Linked DNA regions of Homo sapiens: region 1 is linked to region 2. The links come from fine-mapping of genetic effects on gene expression. A gene starts in region 2. The other region holds a variant in brackets. All regions are shown on one strand. Distances are between the middles of the regions. Region 1 overlaps DGKD (diacylglycerol kinase delta). Region 2 holds the start of USP40 (ubiquitin specific peptidase 40).

Region 1 (12,026 bases), 98 kb before region 2:
CTGTCCCCTCAAAGCCCATGGTGGCCCCTCTGGCCTGCCTGGAAGGTGCACTTGCACAGCACTGCAGGAAGCTGCTGGCAGCGGCCTGTTTCCACAGGGTCAGGACAGGCTGGCCCCGCTGCCTTTGCTTGCACTGCTCCTATAGTCTCTGTCCCCCGATCTCACCTGCCTGAGCCACATCTCAGCCTCCCTGGGACCTGGTGTGACTTGTGCTCTCACCGTCTTCCCTATGAGGGCTGCTATCTGGGGTCTGGCTCAGAGCCCATCACTGCACCAGGATTGTCCTGTTCAGATGAGGGTCCTTTTGTCCCCAGGGACAGACCGGCCAGTTACAGGTTCCAGCAAGGCTGTGGGGATTGTGCCTTACTGCAGCAGTCTCTGCAGTGGGCCTGTGCACACTGTCACTTGCCCACTGGCCGTTTTACAGGTTGTAAGCCTCATTTTGTACATTTCTCTCCCTGGAAAATCTTGGATTTTGACGTCAGATTTCTCGTGGAAGCCCTCCCATTTGCTGTGGGTCATCCTGTGCCCAAGCTTGTGACTGAACGGTCGCTGGGCTGAGCCACGATCCCTGTCGTCCTGCTGGGCCTGCCCTCCACATCAGCCCTCCAGGTGGTACCTGGGCCGTGTTCAGATGCGTATTGTGAAAGGCTGCCCTTCCATTTGGCCTGACATCTGCCCGTGCTTCTCTTCCTCTCTAGTATCCGAGAAATAGCTCAGTCTCACCGGGACATGGAGCAGGAACTGGCCCACGCCGTCAATGCCAGCTCCAAGTCCATGGACCGTGTGTATGGCAAGCCCAGAACCACAGAGGTAGCTATTCTGGCCTTTTCAGTCCTGGCTTCTTCTCAGTGTCTGCCGCCCTCGGCCCTCCCCGTGCGTGTTCATTCCCCCGCCTCCCCGGTGCATGTTCGGCCCTCCCAGTGCTTGTTCCCTGCCCCTAACCGTGCATGTTCGGCCCCCCGCCCCCATGCATATTTGCCTGGTTTCTTCTAGGGGCTCAACTGCAGCTTCGTCCTGGAAATGGTGAATAACTTCAGAGCTCTGCGCAGTGAGACGGAGCTGCTGCTGTCTGGGAAGATGGCCCTGGTAAGCTGGTGCCCCAGGGACAGCAGGGCTCGGGCTGTGTGTGAAACGACTGCTGTCGCCAGGTTGCTGGGCACACAGGGCAGCACACTTTAGTCCAGAGTTCCCGGTCTTAAGGAATGGGCCGCAGAGGTCATTTGGTTTGTTGTGCGGCTGGTGCCCACCCCTGCTGGCAACCCCTCAGTCAGGTTGTCTCAAGCATGCGAGAAGCGCTTGCAGCGGAAACACCCTTGTCGTCGTGGACAGAAGATGCTTTTCTGCCTTAGAAGCCTGTAGTGCAGAGTCCTGCTCCTGCCGAGAGCTGGCCACACTCTCAGGCACCTTCCATGCTCAGCCCTGCAAAACCGGCTGATATGGCAGCTGTGGGGCTGTTACTGAATCACAGGGGCTAGAACAGGGAGAGGCCTGAGAGACTGACTGGCCAGCCTTCTGGTTTTAAAGATGAGGAGGAAGGGGCTTGATAAAGATTGGGCAACTGGAGAACCGCCCCAGGTGTGGTTTCCCAGCCCTCCACTCCGCACGCCACTCACCTCCTCACTGCACGCGTCTCCTCACTGCACGCATCACCTCACTCCACACATCACCTCACTCCACACATCTCCTCACTGCACGCATCTCACTCCACACATCACCTCACTCCACACATCTCCTCACTCCACACATCTCCTCACTCCACGCATCTCCTCACTCCACGCATCTCCTCACTCCACGCATCTCCTCACTCCACGCATGTCCTCACTGCACGCATGTCCTCACTGCACGCATGTCCTCACTGCACGCATGTCCTCACTCCACGCATCTCCTCACTCCACGCATCTCCTCACTCCACGCATCTCCTCACTCCACGCATCTCCTCACTCCACGCATCTCCTCACTCCACGCATCTCCTCACTCCACGCATCTCCTCACTCCACGCATGTCCTCACTGCACGCATCTCCTCACTCCACGCATCACCTCACTCCACGCATCACCTCACTCCACAGAAATCCTCACTCTACGCATCTCCTTATCCCATGCCTCCCCTCGTCCCACGTCCCGTGGTCACACGCGTGTCCTCACTGCACACCTCCTGCTGCCTCCTGCAAGGTTCGACTGCTGACTTTGCTTCCCACAGCATTTCCACTGCTTGACACAGGTGAATGGCTCCGACCCCATTTCTGACAGAGGGACACAAGCAGGTCAGTTGTCAGCCTTGCTCTATGTGAATTCATCGTTGACTGATGGACAGTTTTATTCTCTCACCAGCACTACTTAGAAAGTGAGGTTCTGGGTTTGGTTCCTTTTCTGGTGCTCTGGGACTTCGTTTCTGGAAAGTGAGCTCCCTGATCAGAGCAGAGCAGAGCCCTGGAGCGGACCTCACCCCCCTGGGCCTCGCGCTGATCAGCAGTGCACACTCTCCATTTCTCTCTCCCTCCCTCCGCCTGGAGCAGCAGCTGGATCCGCCTCAGAAGGAGCAGCTGGGGAGTGCTCTTGCCGAGATGGACCGACAGCTCAGGAGGCTGGCAGACACCCCGTGGCTCTGCCAGTCCGCAGAGCCCGGCGACGAAGAGGTATGTGGCTCATAGGGCTGTGCCTGGGTCTCCCGGACATGGTGGCTCTCGCCTGAAGTGCCTGTGTTCCTTGTGACCCGTGTGGCTCTGGGATCAAGATCGTGTCGCTCCGGCAGCCCCTGAGGGGCCTTCTCCAGACTTCGCTATTAAAATGCTCTTTAAGGCAGGGAGGGACAGCAGGTAGGAAGGAGTTCTGGGCTGGGATTAAGAGTGCCCCTTGAGGACCAGGGACCTGTTGTCCTCTGAAACAGAACTGCAGGGCTTCCTGGACAGTGGGTAGAAGGAAGGCTGAGCCCAGCCCCACAGCCTCCCCCGAGGGTGGAGATGTATCATGGGATAAATGGCAGCCTTTTGGGATCCCGCTGTGGACAGGGCGCAGTTGGTGTGCGCCACTCCCCACTCACACTCTCTTCCTGTGTGAACAGAAAGACTCCAGCTCGTCGCAGGTCTGGGAGGGACCCGAGGACGCAGGGCATAGCGGACCCTGGGGTGGAGTCACATTCTTCTGCAGGGAGTGCTGGCTGAAGGAGCCCTGGAGAGGGCCGTGTCTGGACAAGGACAAACCCCAGCCTGTCTCTTGGCTTCCCTGCTTCAGAGATAGAACACAGAGGGGCCCTGAGGAAAGCTCATCTTGGGCAGTACAGTTGCAGAAGGCAAATAACTGCAAGACGCCAAACCTGGGCACCCCTGCCCAGTGGGGTTTGTGAGACCTGTGGGCAGCAGTAAGGCGAGGGGACAGAGGTGGGCAGCTGCACAACAGCACCCTCTTTCCGGGGCCCTGGGGCGTTTTTTGACGCATGCAATCCTTTCATGGGAAACTGACTCAGGCACTCCAGCCGATGGATGAAACTCAGCAGCTTCTCAGTGAGGGCACTTGGGTATAAAAGGACAGGGCAAGCTCCTCAAAATCCATTAAATAATTCATTGTAAAGGTGATTAAGAAATTTTACCCAAAATTACAAAAATAATAATATACAATGATTCAACAGATGTCACAGTGACATAGCCCTATAATACCAGATTAAATTAAGGCCAGTAAAGTGGGCAGTGAGGTGAGAGGCTGGGAAGAGGACATGGACGGGGGGAGGAAAGCATGTTAAATTCCTCCTCTTACAGTGGAAGAACGTTACAAACAACATTCTTGACTTTCATACTTGGAGAAATACAGAGTCAATAATGTTTTTAGGGTCAAGAGTGGTGGCTCGCACCTGTAATCCCAGCACTTTGGAAGGCCAAGGTGGGAGGATCACGTTAGCCGAGGAGTTCAAGACCAGGCTCGGCAACATAGTGAGACCCTGTCTCTATTAAAAAAAAATTTTTTTTTAAACTTAAAGGTAATTTCTAATAGAGCTGAAAAGATTTATATCTTCCAAATTGCCACCAAGGACAAAAATAAAATACAATTTATATTGTAAAAGAAAGTAAAGGACCAGCAAGGGTATCGCTAACAGCATGAAAATAAGATAACAGAAAAATGACATGGCTTTCTCTTAAAAGTAAATTCTTAGGTTGTGTTTTAAAAGAAACCTAACCATATATTGCTCACAAGAGCCCTGTTTTTTTTTCTCATACTCCTAATAAAAATTTATGATACAGAAAGATTAATAATAATTAAAACACCATAAAAAATCCAAAGTAACAATATAAAAATAAAATTGCATATGTAAGACAATAAATGATAAAAAGAGGATCACTTTACATTGGTAAAATACAATAATTGTTATGTATAGTCATCAACTTATGACAGTTATAATAGTCACGAAACTGTGCCAAATAATAAGCATCTAAATTAGCTGTTCAAGACTATGTTTTTTATTCCCTAACTTCATTTTACTGTGCTCCAAGCAATGGTCTGTATGTTACTAGTCCTTTGAAATGTACTGAGGTGAGACTTGCCCAATAGGTGGTTTTTGTAAATGTATCTTGTATGCAGTTGTGTTTACATCATTAAGTTCCTACTGAAATTTTTTTTGTCTTCTTGATAGATCAGTTAACTCTAATACCATAATTGTAGATGTCTCAGTTTATCTTTGTGGTTATGTGTATTTTTGCTTCATGTATTTTGAGGCTATGTTATTGGGTACCCATAGGTTTTATCATTATATAATGATCCTTTTATCTTTAGTAATTCTTTTTATCTTCAAGTCTACTTGCTTGCTATATTTTTTCATAGTTTTACTTTCAAGCTTTATTTGGAGTGTCTCTTATAAAGAGTGCATCACAGAGTGAGGCAGTGTTACCTCCGTGCATCTCAGGGAGTGCTGTGTGGAGAGGCTGCCGCCGCCGATGGCTGTCAAGAGCAGAGGCCGAGCCTCTGTGTGGCTCCGCTCTTCACCCTTCCTCTGCTCTTCTGCCTCAGGGAGTGGATCGCAAGGAAAGAATGCAAAGTGCAGGAGAGTTTTCATTAGACAGATACTCGTAATACTAAGAATCAAAGCCCAGCAATCCAACACTAGAAGATTGGCTAAAGAGGTTATTTTAATAATTTTTGTTTAGATACTGATATTTATGATATTTTCAAAAAGTTTTTAAATCTCATGAGAAACGCACATGTAAAGTGAAGGAAGTAGAATATGATAAAAATAGACACTATGATCACTTTGAAACCACTTTAACACTCACTAAAATCAACACTAAATACAAGAATCAATAAGGGAGAGAAGCCCTTTCAGGCACAAGAGGTCTTTCCCAGCTCCCGCTCATCTCAGCCCTGCCTGCCCTCCCAGCCTCTCTGGTGGAGATGGGCATGAGGCCGTGATCAGTTGCAGCCTGATTCTCAGTATTCCTCATTCTCCCCAACAGAGTGTGATGCTGGATCTTGCCAAGCGCAGTCGCAGTGGTAAATTCCGCCTCGTGACCAAGTTTAAAAAGGAGAAAAACAACAAGAACAAAGAAGCTCACAGTAGCCTGGGAGCCCCGGGTACCTGCCTCTCTCCCGCGTGTGTTTCTGGCCGTCCACGCCTGCTGGATCGGCCCCGTTCCCCTGGTCTCTGCTTTCTCCCTTGGCCTTGCAGCTCCTCCCTCTTGGTCCCTGTGCTGTAACCCCCGGTCCTGCGACCACACTTGTCTGTTGGTAGCTGCAGCCCTCCACCCTGCCTGCTTCCCCTCTGACCGTTGTCACACCCGGCCCTGACGTGCTCTCTGGCTTTCTGCCTGCCCTGAGTTGGGGGATTCGAGGTGGGGAGGAAGACAGCAGTAGAGTGGTGACAAGACAAACTTGGAGACACAAAGCTCTGGACTCAGGCCG[T/C]GCTGGGGCATGCCCTGCCTGCTCCCTCCTGGGCTGCTGGTTCCTGATAAATTGATGCATTGGTCGAGGTTCCTGTGCTGGGAAGCCCAGGCCACCAGAGATTGTGGGTGATGAAATCAATCGAATATGGTCCTGAAGGACATTGTTCCTTTGGGTCAGTAAATTGGAGCTAAACTCTCTGTCTGAAGGATCAGCCCTGAATACCCAGGCCATATCCAGTGCTGTCAGGGGCTGGAGAGGCCTCCAAGCCTGGATATTGGGACTGGTGTTTGCCGCCAGTCAGGGCAGCTCCTGTGGGTTTTTCTTCTTTGCATGTTTGTCCAGAAATGGGGTTTCTGTTAATAATGGTGGCTCTGACTATGTGAATTGAAATCTCTGCTCGTTTCCTTTCCTGCTATGGTCCAGAAGTGAAATTTAACCCTTCTAGAAGCTGGAGGAAAAGCTGGCTTTGGCCACAATCATGAGGACATTTCCCTCATATTTGGTGGTGGTAAATCCCTCCTGGGACACGGGGAAATGACCAGAGGCTGGCGGCCCACCTGGCAGGAACAGATGCCAGCTCTGCTGCAGCCATCGCCCCTTGAGCGGGTGGCTCTGTGCCTCTTTCTGCACTGCTGGTGGGTGGTGCTGTTGGCTGGGTGATGGATACCGGCTGCCAGAGATGGCTCAGGTGCCAGCTGCTGGGCTATCTCAGGCACTGGCTGCTGGGCTATCTCGGGTGCCGGCTGCTGGGCTATCTCAGGCGCTGGCTGCTGCTGGGCTGTCTCGGGTGCTGGCTGTTGGGACGTCTCCTGTCCTGGCACTGGGCTCTCGGGTGCTGGGTGCCAGCTGCTGCCTACCTTGCACTGGGCTCTGGGCACTCACTGCACTCGTGCTTTTCCATCTCCGACAGTTCACCTCTGGGGGACAGAGGAGGTTGCTGCCTGGCTGGAGCACCTCAGTCTCTGTGAGTATAAGGACATCTTCACACGGCACGACATCCGGGGCTCTGAGCTCCTGCACCTGGAGCGGAGGGACCTCAAGGTACTTCCATAGGCGTCTCCCTGGAACCTGCACTTGGGCTTGCACGCAGCTCCCTTCTCTTCCATCCTCTCCCCCGACCTGGCCATGTCCCAGCATCACGATTCTTCTCAGGCTTTCGTGTATACCTCAGGTGGGGGCGGCTGTGGCCCTCATCTAGGCAGTGATGGCTCCACCCACCACAACCAGAGGAAGCCAGGAGCAGACATAATGGGGGGCAGAGCCTTGGTTATCTTAGGCTACTCAGACAAGGACTGTCTTCGTGTTAAAAACACTATGAGGGGACACAGACCCTGAAGCACAGTCACACACGACTGTCCCCATGCTGCTCCTGGGCGGGTGCTGCCACTCGTCTGCAGGGAGCATTGGGAGGGGTGGTTGGGTGCCAGGCCTCGGTCTATGCCAGGCCTCACGCCACATCTTGCAGGCCCATGCCCCTGCCCAGGTTGGCCTCAACGGGCCAACCCCTGGGTGTTGAATCACTGGCTGAGTCCCGAGAGGGCAAAAGGCCACTGTGGGTGTCCTGGACAGTGGCTCTCATGAGGTCACTTGTCATCCACTTGCTTTTAGGCCTGTGTTTTGTCTTTGTCTTGGATTTGTCCTTGCTGATGGTAGTGACTAGAATGCAGGAACAATGGGCCAGGCATCTGTATGGTTGTTACTTTTAAGCTGTTTCCATCTTGTTTTACCGTTTTTGTCATTTTGGCTCTCATTTGTGTTCACAAGCCGAATGGGAAGGGCCGTTGTGGCAGGCCTGCTGTGGAGCCCTCTGGCCCTGGCTGTCTTCTCGGCATCCATGGCGGTGTCTTCTCTGTTGCAGGACCTGGGCGTGACCAAGGTGGGCCACATGAAGAGGATCCTGTGTGGCATCAAGGAGCTGAGCCGCAGCGCCCCCGCCGTCGAGGCCTAGCCTCTGTCCTCTCAGCCTGTGGCCTCCACATCCCCGCCGCCGAGGCCTAGCCTCCGCCCTCTCAGCCTGTGGCCTCTGCGCCTCCTGCCACTGAGGCCCTGGGCAGATGCTGCAGCCCGCCCCCTTCTCATGGTGCTACTTCCTCTGTCAGCTACAGAAAGCCTCCGTGACACCGTCCACCAGAGCTCTGGGGTCTCGAACATAACAACACAGCTACCTTTGAAACAACACTTTCTCCAGCTCAGAGTCACCTGGGGCACATGTGTCACGGCCACTCAGCTCTCGCCCGCCTGTGCTGTGGGCCAGGGAATCCAGCGGCGTCTGGCCTCCTGGGCACTGCTTGCCTGGCCTCGTGCTTGGATTGTCCCGGGGGCTCCTCTCCGTGTGTCCTTCTGTGGCCGCACCGTGTGGCTCCGCCTCCTGGCCCCCAGCCAGTTCTCAGAAACGTGGCTGGGGCCCAGCACAGCAGCCTGCAAGGGCCCCTGTTTGTTGATGCAGCTTTTGTTGAACAAAAATCGTGCTCTTTCCTGGTTTGAAAGTAGCATGGATGTTTCCAGTCTTGTTGATTGTAATTTGACGTGAAGAGAAAAAAAAATTCCTCCTGCGTGAGCCAAGGCAGCGGGTGCTGTTTCCCAGGCGGGGAGCCCCTCCCTGGGTGTCACAGGGCCTGTGCTCCTCCCTCCTCCATCCTCTCTCCTCCCGCTCCTCCCTCCCCCCACTGTGGGCTGGGGACGCCTGCCCTTCTGTCTCCGGACGCTCTAGGCGAGTTCAGCTTGGGGTGTGAGTGAGACAGCTTGCCAGCTGCATCCCTGCAGACAGAGGATGTGTGTCCACATGAGTGTTTCTGTGTGGGAAATGCTTCCTGGCTCTGGGAAACTTTTTCTGCCCATTCTGTGGTTCCCAGGGAGCGTGGCCCTGGTGGGCCAGGGGTGGTTTGACCTCTTCAGCCCGTCCGGTGGCCTGGAGGCCGGAGGCTCTCCTGAGTGTCTGCCCCTGCAGTGGCTTCTTGTCGCCTGCTGCTGGGCGTGATGTCGCTGGAGGTGCTGGCAGGGACTCTGATTTGGTGGTCCGCGCTGCCCCTGCCCTGCCTCTGTCCTGGCTCTGAACTAGTAGATGATGGTGCCAGAGGGCAGGGAGCTCGCCTGGGGAGAGGGCTGTGCCCCGTAGGGACAGTGCCCAGGTGAAGGATGCCCCTGGTCCTCCAGGGCACTGACTTTGCCCTTTTTTCCCGTTGATAGTCATGGCTCAGAGGTGCTTGTAAATGTCTTGGGAAGAGGTTTCTGTAACCCCTGCCCTGGTGTGAGGAGGAAATGGCTCTGGCCTGGCTGCCTGGCCGTGGCTTCTCTTTGGCTCCCAAAGAGAAGGACAGTGTTGGGAGTATCTGCCGTGGCTTCTCTTTGGCTCCCAAAGAGAAGGACAGTGTTGGGAGTATCTGCCGGCGCTGTCCAGGTCCTTTAGTCAGCGTCACTCCATCTGATGTGCAGAAGCTGGGCTGCACCTGCGGGGGTGGGCATAGACCGGGCTGGGTCTGCAGCAGCCCCTGGTCCTGAGCAGGCGGCAGTGAACAGCACTGGCCCACCTCCCACTCACAGCCCCTCTGTCCCCTCTGCAGTGCACCCAGGTGGGCCCCTCTGCGTGCCTTTGGGTGCTCCCCTCTCGTGGTCGTTCTGGCCCGAGGCCCTTAGAGTATGGAGGCTGAGCCAGGCCTTGGGTTTCCCCAGCACAGCCTCCTGTCGCTGCATGCGACGTGTTGGGATTTTTGGATGAAAGACTCTCCCACGCTCTGTTGGTGGACTTAGCTGCCTCACTGGAAGTGATGTGGGTGGAAGGTGGTTGTATGTTACCTTTTCCACCTCTCATTGTTTTCCCCAGAACATTGTAGATGGGGGTTGGCAGAGGGAGAAATAAGCCAGCCACGGCAGTCGCTTGGTTTCCCAGGTGGAATGGGCTAACACAGGAGATGATGGGAACCTGTCCCGCAGTCCCTGCATGACCATTGGCCCTGCTGGCCTGGCGATGTGGGCATCCTGGGGTTCTTAGGGTCCCAGAACAAGCCCCAGGCAAGCTGGAACTTGGGTGGGGAGGGGACATGAGGAGGATAAACAGCTGACTGTGGCTTCAAGGACATCAGGGCCACCCCAAGTCCTCAGTGTCCTACTCCTGGCAAGGAGTTGGGTTTGGATCAAAAGTGTTTAAAATTAATATGTTGTCAGTGATTAGAACAACACTGTTTACATAAAAACCATTTTTCTAATTCTAACAAGTTAGAATGTGAGGAAGGAATGAACATGAGTGTTTAGGAACCTGCCCTTTGGTGCTGGGCTGGCGTCCCGCACTGGGGTGTCCTCGCTGTCTGGGGGCTGCTCTGCTGCCCCGGCCCAGGTCCCCTTGTGGTGTTGCCAGACGGGCCTCATGGTCTGCTGTGCAGAGAGAGGCAGGAAGGATCCCTGAAGAGTCTTGGAGAAAAGGTTCTGTGCCCTCAGGTGGGGCTTACCCCCTCGTATTTATAATCTTAATTTATATAGTGACCACCGTGGAAACAAACGCCTCTTGTATTGTCATGTACATAGTCCATACCTGAGTGCTGTACATAAGTTGTTCTGTGTATAAATAAAACAAGCCTGTTTTTGATCTTCCATCGCCAGAGTCTTTGTCATCATTCCTTGTGCTTTGACATAAAGTGTTGGTTGCCGGAATCTTTCCAAACTGGATTCAGAATTGTTTTTCACCTGCTCTGAAAATAGGTTGAGTTGTTGGTGGCTAAAAAGCAAAACAGAATGCCATTAGCATGCCATCAGAATGCCGTTAGAATGCCATTAGAATGCTGTTGTATTTTTTAGGGTGTGGGTTCTGTGATCAGTTGGACTAAAAATTCCGCAAGGAGAGAGAGGGTACTGGGCAGTGCTGAGGCTCTCAGGTGTGACCACACAGCCTTGGCCCGGGAGAATGAGGGCCATTTTAACGAATATTTTAACCCTCTTAAATCTTTTCTATAAAACTGCAAACCTGAAGCTCTCCGACTTCTCTGCTTTGTCTTGGTACTTTTATTTCCAAGGGAACTGTCTACGATCAAGGCCACTTGAATTGTCTTCCCCAGTTTCCTGGAGTGAGGGATGGGGACTGCATTCATGGAAGACACCATCAGGCTGGTCGGGTACAGAAGGGCTGCATGTGCTCCGGGAGTGTTGGCTGCCTCCCTAGCAGCTCTTCCTCACTCCTTCCATGGTAACAAACCCCCCCGTTTTTTTTTTTCTGGTGTATATTCTCCTCTCTGGCCATTCAGGACTTCAGGCCTCATGGTTGCAAGATGGCCACCACAGCTCCAGGCATCACACCAGTGTAAGGTGTTTGGGGACAAATGGCTGCCTCTTTTATGTGTCACCTGCTCTTTTTGTTGTTGTTGTTGAAGATGAGGTCTTGCTCTGTCTTCTGGTCTGGAGTACTGTGGCATAATCGTAGATCACTGCAGCCTCCAAATCCTGGACTCAAGTGATCCTCCCACCTCAGCCTCCCTTGTAGCGGAGAGTACAGGTGCATGACAACATACCCAGCTAGTTTGTAAAATTTTTTGTAGAGACTGGGTCTCGCTTGCTTCCTAGGCTGGTTTTGAACTCCTGGCGTTAAGCGATCCTATGTGTGTCTCTTTTTAAGATAAAGGGAGCCCTTTCCGAAGCTCTGGCTTCAGCCGACCTCCTCTAATGTCTTGGCTAGAACTGCCTCACGCACTCATGACTAAACCAATCAGTGCGAAGGGTACGAGCTATTACGGTGATCGGGATGCTGACGGCTGACACTTTATAATTTGTGCCAGGTGTTGGTCTAAGTACCTTGAATGTACGAACTCCTCTAATTCCCCTCACAGCCTTACATGGTGGGTTATCTGCATTTTACAGGCGAGGGACAGGCTCAGAGAGGCGACACAACTTGCCCCATGAGGCACAGCCAGCGCGTGGCTGACATGGGAGGCAGAGGGCATATCTTTTCGACAGCCGTGCTCTCCCGTGTCCCAAGCCTCATAGCAAGCCCAGCCCACAAGACAGGTGAGGAAATTGGGCCCAAGTGACAGGCATGCTTTCCAGCACAGCAGCCGGGGCGCCTCACGTGCTGGGGGCACCAGATGCCCGGGCAGGGGCAGACCTGGGGGGAGGCTGGTGTGCGCTTTGCCAGCCTCACTCCTGTGCCCGCGTGGCTCATCTCACACGGGGCATGGCT
Region 2 (12,026 bases):
AAGAATTTTTAAAAATTTACTTACAATGTAATTGATCCATTATTGTTGGTCAAAGACTAAAAAACTGATCAACAGTTTCCTATATAAATGGTAGGTAATCTCCATGTAATCGGTGTTGTATCTCAACTAGACTACATAAAGACTCTTAGGGTAGAAATTGTAAAAATCAGCTCTTGTACTTCTCCCCGTTTTTCCAATCTTCTCCCCAGCCCCAAATCACAGCCATTCATAAAATCCTGTATACAGCAAGTGTCTAAAAATATATATTTCTGGCTTGTAATTTTTTAATGTGAGAAGGAAACATTCAAACAATATGTTGAGACCCTAAGACAAAATTAAAGGAAGTTAGATAACATTAAACCAGCCTTATTCTTTCCTCTATTGCTGGTAACTCTTCCTTAAAGAGCTGATCCTCGTACCTCATTACTGGTCCACCCAAAGCTGTCAGTGAGGTCTGCTGTGGATGCAGCTTCCTGGTCTAAGAGCAGAAGCTGAGCAAACAAGCGCTGTAACTGTAAAGGGATGATTCGAACCTGAATGAGAAACAAACACATTTCTAAATGAATTCTTTAAGTGTTGACTAAGGCTTTTGAAAACAACTGCATACTAGCTTTTTTATATCTCCCAGTTCATTCAGGAGAAAGTTTATAAATATCCTATTATAAGGGAAAAACTAATTATGATTCAGTTCTTCTGTGAAAATTATAATGCAATCTAAAAAATAATAGTTATTTGGAGTTTTCTACCTTGATATGGTTCAGACAAACATTAAAACTCAAATAGGCCTTAATAAACCACTCAACTGATTACAGATTGACAGTAGTTTGAATCTCTTCTAATAGTCCATTATTTCTCTAAAATACCTCTGATACACACAATTTCCCCTCTGTAGAAATTTTCCAGGCACAATACTGTATCTCGCTCTGGAGTTCTCAGCACACCCTGCCTCACTTTCTCCTGGCTCCAAGTGAGTTCCTGCCTTACTTGATGTGGTGAGGGCTGGGGCAGACTGAGCAATGTTGCTCAGAGTCTGGTCTGTAGGCTAGACTTTAAGTATTTAAAGGAGAATAAGCATTTAGAAATTGTAATGGCAATTTGACATTCCCATGGCATTTTTATTATATACTAGAAAAGTGCTAATCTGCAACAGATTGGGAATAAAAAGAAATACACAAAAACAGGTCCTTTGCCACACAGGTAGCCTGAGAAGTACTGGGCTAGATCATGAAAGACTCCTAAGAAGTACAAATTTGAGCCTGAACATGGTAAGAAACTTTTGAGTTATGTTTAAGCAGGGAGGAACATGATTAGATATGCACTTTAAATATCACCACAATAACAAACAAAATAATTAACTCATTACTCAATTTATTTCCAGAGTACCAAATTGAAAGAATACTAGCCTCTATTTTTTTTTGTGTGGGGTGGAGAGGTCGGTATTGTTGCAAAAAAAGTGCTTTAAATAGACTTCTGGGGGAAGCTAATGTGGATGTTCTGCAAATATTTCCTTCACCAGAAGAAAGAATAAGCATAGTAAAGAGTGTTACATGTTTATAAAGCAGTAGCAGTATTGTACTTGGAAAACTGATTCTTTCTCGGAAGGCAAATTCCATTACCCATAGGGTATAGGCCAAGTCACTTTCTGGAAATAAAGAGCATATTTGATAATTAATAAAATTATTGCTTTGTGAACAAGCCACTTAATTCCTTCTTTAAAAAAAATTTTCTGAATACGCTAAAACACCCCAGTAAATCATAGATGTAATACCTTTGCATCGGGTTTATCCTTATCTTCAAACAAACCAAGCTCTTCTGGGCCAAGAGAAAATAAAGTTCATATGGAACCAAAAAAGAGCCCGCATCGCCAAGTCAATCCTAAGCCAAAAGAACAAAGCTGGAGGCATCACACTACCTGACTTCAAACTATACTACAAGGGTACAGTAACCAAAACAGCATGGTACTGGTACCAAAACAGAGATATAGATCAATGCAACAGAACAGAGCCCTCACAAATAATGCCACATATCTACAACTATCTGATCTTTGACAAACCTGAGAAAAACAAGCAATGGGGAAAGGATTCCCTATTTAATAAATGGTGCTGGGAAAACTGGCTAGCCATATGTAGAAAGCTGAAACTGGATCCCTTCCTTACACCTTATACAAAAATCAATTCAAGATGGATTAAAGACTTAAACGTTAGACCTAAAACCATAAAAACCCTAGAAGAAAACCTAGGCATTACCATTCAGGACATACGCATGGGTAAGGACTTCATGTCTAAAACACCAAAAGCAATGGCAACCAAAGACAAAATTGACAAATGGGATCTAATTAAACTAAAGAGCTTCTGCACAGCAAAAGAAACTACCATCAGAGTGAACAGGCAACCTACAAAATGGGAGAAAATTTTCGCAACCTACTCATCTGACAAAAGGGCTAATATCCAGAATCTACAATGAACTCAAACAAATTTACAAGAAAAAAACAAACAACCCCATCAAAAAGTGGGCGAAGGACATGAACAGACACTTCTCAAAAGAAGACATTTATGCAGCCAAAAAACACATGAAAAAATGCTCATCATCACTGGCCATCAGAGAAATGCAAATCAAAACCACAATGAGATACCACCTCACACCAGTTAGAATGGCAATCATTAAAAAGTCAGGAAACAACAGGTGCTGGAGAGGATGTGGAGAAATAGGAACACTTTTACACTGTTGGTGGGACTGTAGTTCAACCATTGTGGAAGTCAGTGTGGCGATTCCTCAGGGATCTAGAACTAGAAATACCATTTGACCCAGCCATCCCATTACTGGGTATATACCCAAAGGACTATAAATCATGCTGCTATAAAGACACATGCACACGTATGTTTATTGTGGCATTATTCACAATAGCAAAGACTTGGAACCAACCCAAATGTCCAACAATGATAGACTGGATTAAGAAACTGTGGCACATATACACCATGGAATACTATGCAGCCATAAAAAATGATGAGTTCATGTCCTTTGTAGGGACATGGATGAAATTGGAAATCATCATTCTCAGTAAACTATCGCAAGAACAAAAAACCAAACACCACATATTCTCACTCGTAGGTGGGAATTGAACAATGAGAACACATGGACACAGGAAGGGGAACATCACACTCTGGGGACTGTTGTGGGTTGGGGGGAGGGGGGAGGGATAGCATTGGGAGGTATACCTAATGCTAGATGATGAGTTAGTGGGTGCAGCGCACCAGCATGGCACATGTATACATATGTAACTAACCTGCACATTGTGCACATGTACCCTAAAACTTAAAGTATAATAATAATAATAATAAAAATACCTTTGCATCGGGTTTATCCTTATCTTCAAACAAACCAAGCTCTTCTGGGCCAAGAGAAAATAGAGCTTCTAAAGAAAAAGGTAGAATCAGAGATGCAAATGACATCATTTCATTTTAAAAAATTGTTTTAGAAAGCCAAGACCACCTTTAAGTAAAATCAAGTAGATTCAGAAATATGATTGTGGCAATATTTATACCTTACTCTATACACTTTACTTTCTTGTAACATTTTTAACCAGTGACTCTAAGAAAATAGTGTCATGCTAAGGCTTCAGCATTTCCTAATTCTAGGAAAGGAAAATAATCTTTATGCATAAAACTAAAAACAGTAACATCAGAAATCTTTCATGGCTTCCCACTGTCTATGGCATCAGGTCCCAAAAGCCCAAGAATCTCAGGAAATACAGTAGTGTTGCAGTTTTCCTGCCACATGTAAGGCTAACAAACATCCTTTCGTGGGAAGGATCCTCTTTTACTCTGAGATGCCCTTTTTTTTGGTGTGAAAATGTCTTTTCCGTGTTGAAGGTAATAACAGATGGCAGTGGTCTTATCTGGAAAAAGAAGTTGGCAACCCCATGCGAGTCTCCAGAATTTCTTTATCACCCAACATCTAGGTGATGTGCCACCCAATGGGGCATACCTGAATCTTTTGAGAAGTCTGTATCCGAGCCTAGGTAGGAACTCTTACTGGGAAACTCTGATATACTCTAGGGATACAAGGAATGGGATAAATGTGTCTCCCTATTGAAAAACTATTGCTACCCTAGTGCTTACTGTTAATGAATGTTATATTCTTTCTAAGTGCTGGGACTCGGCAAAAATGAACTACAAATCTACAAGTTAAAGCATAAAACCATACAAAAACTTTTATAATAATCTCCCAGTACTCTCAGCTACATTGTAATGGAGTACAATGGAACCCAATGTAGCCCTATTATTTAAAATACTATTCCAAAATTTCCCCCGCCAGTTCTCTGACAGTCCTTATTCTTTCCAAATTATACCTCCCTGTCAGTCACCATCAGGATTCAGGCTAAGCTATACAAGCAGTGCACATTGTGCACTAAGATGTCAAATCATATGCTTGGCCAGCAATCCCCTCTGCTGGAGAGGAAGTTGGCCTGGGACTCTCAGTACTACTCTTGCCTAATGGTACGCTCCATGACCCGCCCTACACTTCACCATCTTCCTCAGTCCCTTTGAGGCTACGTTTCTACTTCGAGTTGTCCTTTAACTTCAACTATATTAAAACCTGGAAAAGTGTTATCCCTATTAGAAATGTACTTATTAGTGCTGGCAATTTTTACTGGTGGAATTACTGATTGCATCAGGGAGATATTTTTATGGAGGGGATCGAGTCAAGGCTAAGAGGTACCACTTAAATCCCACATGCAATCCAACCCATTAAATTGCTCCTAGGAAGGTAACAGCGGTAAATATTTACTAAATCTCTGGAGGCAGCAAGTCTTTCTAAGCTTAGAAGCAACAGAAGAACCACAAAGATTTGATAAATGTGGTGGCAGTAGGGAAGAGGAACATGGCAAACCAGATAGGATGAGTCAGGCTGTCTGTCCTCCTAATATGGAGACACTGTGGAGAGCTGAGCTACAAAGCCATGTAGTGCTGGGGACCCCAGTCAGGGCCAGGTGAAGGCAAAGTAATGTTCACACTGAGCTCACGGGAACACAGCTCCTAGGACCCTTGTGGAGGAAGCTGGTTTGCAGAGATGGGGTATGGGAGAAATATATAGAGAGAAACAGGGGCAAGAAATCAAGGGTCCAGTAAGGTCAGGCTGGCTTCCTGCAGTTGATTTCTGAGATCCCCTATATTCTTACAATAACCCCCCTTTTAAATTTAGCTAATTTGGGTGGTGGGTCTGTTTCTTGCACACAATCCCTTACCTAAAATCTCTGGGTCTTTGGAATTCAGAATTTCCAGAGTTTATAAAGATAATATGAAAAAAGTGTTTTTTATATATATATAAAATGTTACATTCCCAGCAGGGTCTGGGCCAGCTTCCATTAATCAAGCAGATTAATATTCCTGTAATGAATGTATGAACATTCACCCACATGAGATAACTAAAAACTGTAAATAGCCTCACACCAGGTCTGGTTCTGAAGCCAAACAAGCTCAGGTGAGATCAGATGAGGGTGTGAGCTTTCCAGATTTCAGAAATGCGTATGAACAACTGTGCACCCATATAAATAATATGACACCCTTCCCCACTCCAAAAGGTAGATATAATTGGTTGGATAACTCTGGCTTAAGTGTTTGTTATTCTAGAGAAATCTTAAAACTCAAACAGTGTAACAATAATGAAGACTGATACTTATGACAATTGTCTTTACGTTGTACTTTAAATTACAGGAATTAAAAAAGAAATATATTGCTTTATTTTTTTACTAAACATTATTGTCATCACCCAGGATATATTTAAGATTAAGCTTCACATTTCTCTGCAGAGGGAATTACCAATTTATATCTTATATGTGCAACAATAAACACATACTGTAGAATATATCTTTAAGATAATTGGTCTATTTGTGATTTTGCATAATTAATTACATGTAAAGAAGATGGTACATATTGCTAGTTAAATGTACGTAACATAGCATACCTCTGAATTCAGGTGTGAAATGAAGAGTCTGAAGAAGGGAATTGAGGTAACAGGTTCCACCCTGATTTCTGATTCCGCTTAAATTGGTGAATTCTCTAGGAGCAGGTGGCTCCAAAGCTTTAGTCTTTAATTTCTTCCCTTTTCCATACTGATTATTAGACACAGTGGAATACTCCTCTTCAAACAGGTCCCCAAACATTGTGAAACTAAATACTACCCTTAAAAAAAGTGACATATAAATGCTTTTATTTTTAAAATAAATTTTCCCCAAATCCCCCTACCTTACACTTGGGAGTCGATTCTGTTGTTTCTTAGAACACAGGACTACTGTTTCTATGTACAGTAGTTGGGTTTTGGAGGCAGCAAGATCTAGATTTTTTTCATCCCTATCAGGACCCTAACTACCTGTGTGACCCTGGATATGTTAATCTGTTTTCTTATGTGTAAAATAGGATACCATCTGTCTCTTCGGGTCATTTAAACTATCCAATGACATAACGAAAGAAGGGCAGTTAGTGTACAGGGTTTGGCCCACAATAAGTAACAGCTGTTTTTAAAAAGGCACGTTCACATCACTAATTTTTTTAAAAAAGAAAACCTGTTGCCACAACTAATCCACTGCTGGGACGGCAAAGCCAACCCTAAATTCTGAGAATCAACTCTCTAAAATCTCTGCTTGTCACACCCTTCAGTACTATATACCAGATTATGACATTTAAATTAAACAGATCAAGTTAACTTTTTTTAGAGCACTTTAGTACAGTCCCGAAGCTGTTGGGCCGGAAGTCAGTTCACTGGGGAGGGAGGGGGGAAGGGGAGCGGAGGGCGGGGAAGACTGCCACTAAAATTATCAAGCCTAAAGGCCTTCCAGTATGTATCCACTAATCCCATCGTTAGCCCTGGGGGCCTAGGTGACTTCCCCAAGGTTTCACATCGAGTGTGGCGGAGGGTCACTTGGAGATGAGAAACGTAAAGCGCCTAGCATAGGTACCAAATGACAGGAAGCGCTGAAATGCAATTATTTTTCTTTTCCTCAGAAGAAAACTAAAAAAACACAACTCGAGAGTCTAGCCTCGAGCTCGTTGTCTGCATTCCTGAATTCCCAACTCCTACGGCCGGCCGAGGCCCTCCAAGCCACCACAGGCCCAGGGGCGCAAAAAGGCAGAGGTCCCCGTGGCCCGAAACCACTGCCCCGACTCCAGGAGAGCGCCGCGTCCTCAGGCAGGCCTGGGCAGCCTCTCGCCTCGCCCTCCTCAGACTGGGCCACCAACACTGTCCCTACGCTTCCCACGTCCCTCCCAGGATCCCCGGGCGCCAGCCGCACTTACTGCCTAAAGCCCAGACCCCCGCCCTGGCCAAAACGCGAAGCGAACGAACCCGCCCCAACTGGGCGCCGCCATGTTGGCGAGGGCGGGTCTCCAGAAAGTGATTTATGGATCGTGGACTATGCTTCCCAGGATGCCCCGCTGGAGCGCCGGCCCCTCGCACGGGGCCTTATGGGAAATGTAACTCTTCTGCTCCAAGAGTTTGGGAACTGGAGCGGGAGCGGGAGCGGGCAAGGTGAGCTCGCTTACAAGTCCGCTGGTGAGTTCGCGGGTCCACTCGGCCAGCGGACCACTCATTCGTTCACATTTATAAGATTATAGCTATATGATCTTATATAAGATTATAGCTATATGATCTTATATAAGATTATAGCTATATGATCTTATATAAGATTATAGCTATATGATCCTTATATAAGATTATAGCTATATGATCTTATATAAGATTATAGCTATATGATCTTATATAAGATTATAGCTATATGATCTTATATAAGATTATAGCTATATGATCTTATATAAGATTATAGCTATATGATCTTATATAAGATTATAGCTATATGATCTTATATAAGAGTATAGCTATATGATCTTATATAAGAGTATAGCTATATGATCTTATATAAGAGTATAGCTATATTATAGCTATATAACCTTATATAAGATTATAGCTATATAACCTTATATAAGATTATAGCTATATAACCTTATATAAGATTATAGCTATATAACCTTATATAAGATTATAGCTATATAACCTTATATAAGATTATAGCTATATAACCTTATATAAGATTATAGCTATATAACCTTATATAAGATTATAGCTATATAACCTTATATAAGATTATAGCTATATAACCTTATATAAGATTATAGCTATATAACCTTATATAAGATTATAGCTATATAACCTTATATAAGATTATAGCTATATAACCTTATATAAGATTATAGCTATATAACCTTATATAAGATTATAGCTATATAACCTTATATAAGATTATAGCTATATAACCTTATATAAGATTATAGTTATATAACCTTATATAAGATTATAGTTATATAACCTTATATAAGATTATAGTTATATAACCTTATATAAGATTAGTTATATAACCTTATATAAGATTATAGTTATATAACCTTATATAAGATTATAGTTATATAACCTTATATAAGATTATAGTTATATAACCTTATATAAGATTATAGTTATATAACCTTATATAAGATTATAGTTATATAACCTTATATAAGATTATAGTTATATAACCTTATATAAGATTATAGTTATATAACCTTATATAAGATTATAGTTATATAACCTTATATAAGATTATAGTTATATAACCTTATATAAGATTATAGTTATATAACCTTATATAAGATTATAGTTATATAACCTTATATAAGATTATAGTTATATAACCTTATATAAGATTATAGTTATATAACCTTATATAAGATTATAGTTATATAACCTTATATAAGATTATAGTTATATAACCTTATATAAGATTATAGTTATATAACCTTATATAAGATTATAGTTATATAACCTTATATAAGATTATAGTTATATAACCTTATATAAGATTATAGTTATATAACCTTATATAAGATTATAGTTATATAACCTTATATAAGATTATAGTTATATAACCTTATATAAGATTATAGTTATATAACCTTATATAAGATTATAGTTATATAACCTTATATAAGATTATAGTTATATAACCTTATATAAGATTATAGTTATATAACCTTATATAAGATTATAGTTATATAACCTTATATAAGATTATAGTTATATAATCTTATAAATATGAATGAATGAGTGGTCACATTTATAAAGATATAAGATTATATTTATATAATCTTATATCTTTGTCTTTCGTCTGTGAATCAAACTAATGGCATGTCAAAGTATTGTCTGGACAATCCTTTCATTCCATAGCTTCCTCTCCTCCTATCAGATCCCCATGAAATCTCACCTGCATTAGGATGATAGCCTTTTCAGTGGACTCCCGTTTTACACACCCCTTCCTGCACGTCACTATAAGATGCACTATCCATCTAAGGTGCACTTTGAGCTCAAACCTCTCTGCTAAAGAAGCTTCCACGATTTCTCAACATCCACTGTGGAAATTCTTTATTTTGATTCTTAGTTCGCTGATGGTCCCAACATTCTTTTCATACTGTATTTCTCACTACACACCTATTTACCAAAGTGCTTTCAAATGTGCCATCTATAAAGCTGCTAATCCCTGAGCCTTTAAGGGAAAAGATAAACACCAGCTGCAAGTCTTTTTGTTTTATGATAAAAAGCCCTGTACAACGAAAACACTTTTTCTGGTTTGGTTCCATGAAAACCAATGCTCTGTCCCTGAAGTCAGGAAGTACCTTGCCAGTAAGGGACTTCCTTTTAAATTGCTTTTGATATTGGACAATGTCCCTGGCCACCCAGAACCCCATAGATTCTGCAATGAGAGCACCAAAGTGGCCTCCTTGCCCCTAAACACAACATGTCTAATTCAGCCCTTAGATCAAGGGGTCATAAGGAACTTTAAGGCTCATTACGTACGGTTTTCTATGGAAAGGGGTGTCAACACTATGGAAGAGAATCTCAACAGGGAGAATATCGTGAAAGTCCAGAAGGATTACACCATTGAAGAAGCCCATGTTGTTACAGAAAAAGCTGTGAAAGCCATCAAGCCCCAAACAATACATTAGTGCTGAAGAAAACTGCGTCCAGATTCCAGATGTTGTGTGTGAGTTCACAGGATTTACAACAGCCTATCAAGGAAGTCATGGAAGAGATTGTGGATATGGCACCAAAAAAAAAAAAAAGAGGCATAAAGTGTTTGAAGATCTAGATCTTGGGGAAATTCAAGAGTTAATAGATACCACATCTGAGGAATTAACAGAAGATGACTTGATGGAGATGAGTGCTTTTGAATCAGTACCAGAGAATGAGGAAGAAGATATAGAAGAAGCACTGTCAGAAAATGAATTGACATTAGACAATCTTGCAGAAGGGTTCTGATTATTTAAGACTGCTTTTGACTTCTTTTACAACTTGGACCCTTCTATGATACGGGCATTGAAACTAAAGCAAATAGTAGAAGAAGGATTAGTACTGTATGCAAGCATTTTTATTTATTTATTTATTTTTATTTTATTTTTTTGAGACAGAGTCTTGCACTGTCACCTGGGCTGGAGTGCAGTGGTGCGATCTTGGCTTACTGCAACCTCTGCCTCCCAGGTTCAAGTGATTCTCCTGCCTCAGCCTCCTAAGTAGCTGGGATTACAGGTGCCCGCCACCACGCCCAGCTAATTTTTTGTAGTTTTAGTAGAGATGGGGTTTCACTGTGTTGACCAGGCTGGTCTCAAACACCTGACCTCATGATCCACCCACCTCAGCTTCCCAAAGTGCGGAGATTACAGGCGTGAGCCACTGCGCACAGCTCAGGCATTTTTAAAGAATTGAAAAAGCAAAACTATCAGACAGTAATTATGATGTATTTCCATAAAGTCAAACTGAGTGTGCCTGTCTCTCCTGCTTCCCCTTCCACCTCCTCCACCAATTCCCCCTCTGCCACTCCTGAAACAGCAAGACCAACTTCCCCCTACCCCCACCCCTCCTCAACAGCCCACTCAATGGGAGACAGTGAGCATGGAGACCTTTATGGTGATACACTTTCACTTAATGAATAGTAAAGATCTTTTCTTTTTCTTTTTTTCTTTCTTTTTTTTTTTTTTTGAGATGGAGTTTCACTCTTGTTGCCCAGGCTGGAGTGCAATGGCGTGATCTCGGCTCAGTGCAACCTCTGCCTCCCAGGTTCAAGCAGTTCTCCTGGCTCAGCCTCCCGAGTAGCTGGGATTACAGGCATGCAACACCACGCCCGGCTAATTTTTTGTATTTTTAGTAGAGACGGGGTTTCACCATGTTAAGGCTAGTCTCGAACTCCTGACCTCAGGTGATCTGCCCGCCTTGGCCTCCCAAAGTGCTGGGATTACAGGCCTGAGCCACCGCGCCTGGCAGTAAAGATCTTTTCTCTTCCTTATGAATTTTAACATTTTCTTTTCTCTAGCAGACTTTATTGTAAGAAAAATACAGCATATAATACATATATTACACAAAATATTTATTAATTGACTTTATGTTATTGGCAAGGCTTCCAGCAAACAGTAGGCTACTGTAGTTATGTTTTAGGGTAGTCAAAAGTTCTATGCTCATTTTTGACTGCACGAAGTTGGTGCCCCTAATCCTCGCTTTATTCAAGGGTCAGCTGTAGCAGCAATGAACAATTGAAAATTGGAATGAAAATACCACTCAAAATAGCATAAAAATATGAAATACTTAGGGCTAAATCTGACAAAAGATGTGAAAGACTGTACACTAAAAACTACAAAACTTTAATGAGTGACCTAAATACACAGTCATGTTCATGAATTGAAAAACTCAAAATTTTTAAGATGTCAGTTCTCCCAGTTCATCTATAAATTCAATACAATCCCAACCAAATCCCAGCAGGCTTTTTTTTTGTGCAAATTGGCAAACTGATTCTAAAATTCTTATGGAAATGTAACGGACCTACAATAGCAAAAACAACAATGGAAAACAAGAAAAAAAAGAGAGTGAACACTGACTCATTTCAAGACCTCCTACAAAGGATAGTAATCAAATATTTCATAAATATGTCAATGAAACAGAATAGAAAGTCCAGA

The links.
Region 1: its variant is fine-mapped to the expression of USP40 in fibroblasts (GTEx, PIP above 0.99).

What each region holds. Positions count from the first base shown.
Region 1 is chr2:233,461,647-233,473,672 of GRCh38, forward strand. It overlaps DGKD (diacylglycerol kinase delta), which reads left to right. Exons shown (of 30, transcript NM_152879.3): 25 at 702-813; 26 at 997-1,089; 27 at 2,518-2,637; 28 at 5,440-5,557; 29 at 6,777-6,907; 30 at 7,725-10,452. The coding sequence ends at 7,814. Among named protein-coding and RNA genes, the nearest start is that of USP40, 99 kb to the right of the region's middle. RefSeq lists a silencer at 6,273-6,488. The variant T/C (reference allele first, on the strand shown) is at 5,885.
Region 2 is chr2:233,559,392-233,571,417 of GRCh38, forward strand. It overlaps USP40 (ubiquitin specific peptidase 40), which reads right to left and starts at 7,391. Exons shown (of 32, transcript NM_001365479.2): 1 at 7,293-7,391; 2 at 5,965-6,182; 3 at 3,345-3,412; 4 at 420-533. The coding sequence starts at 6,163.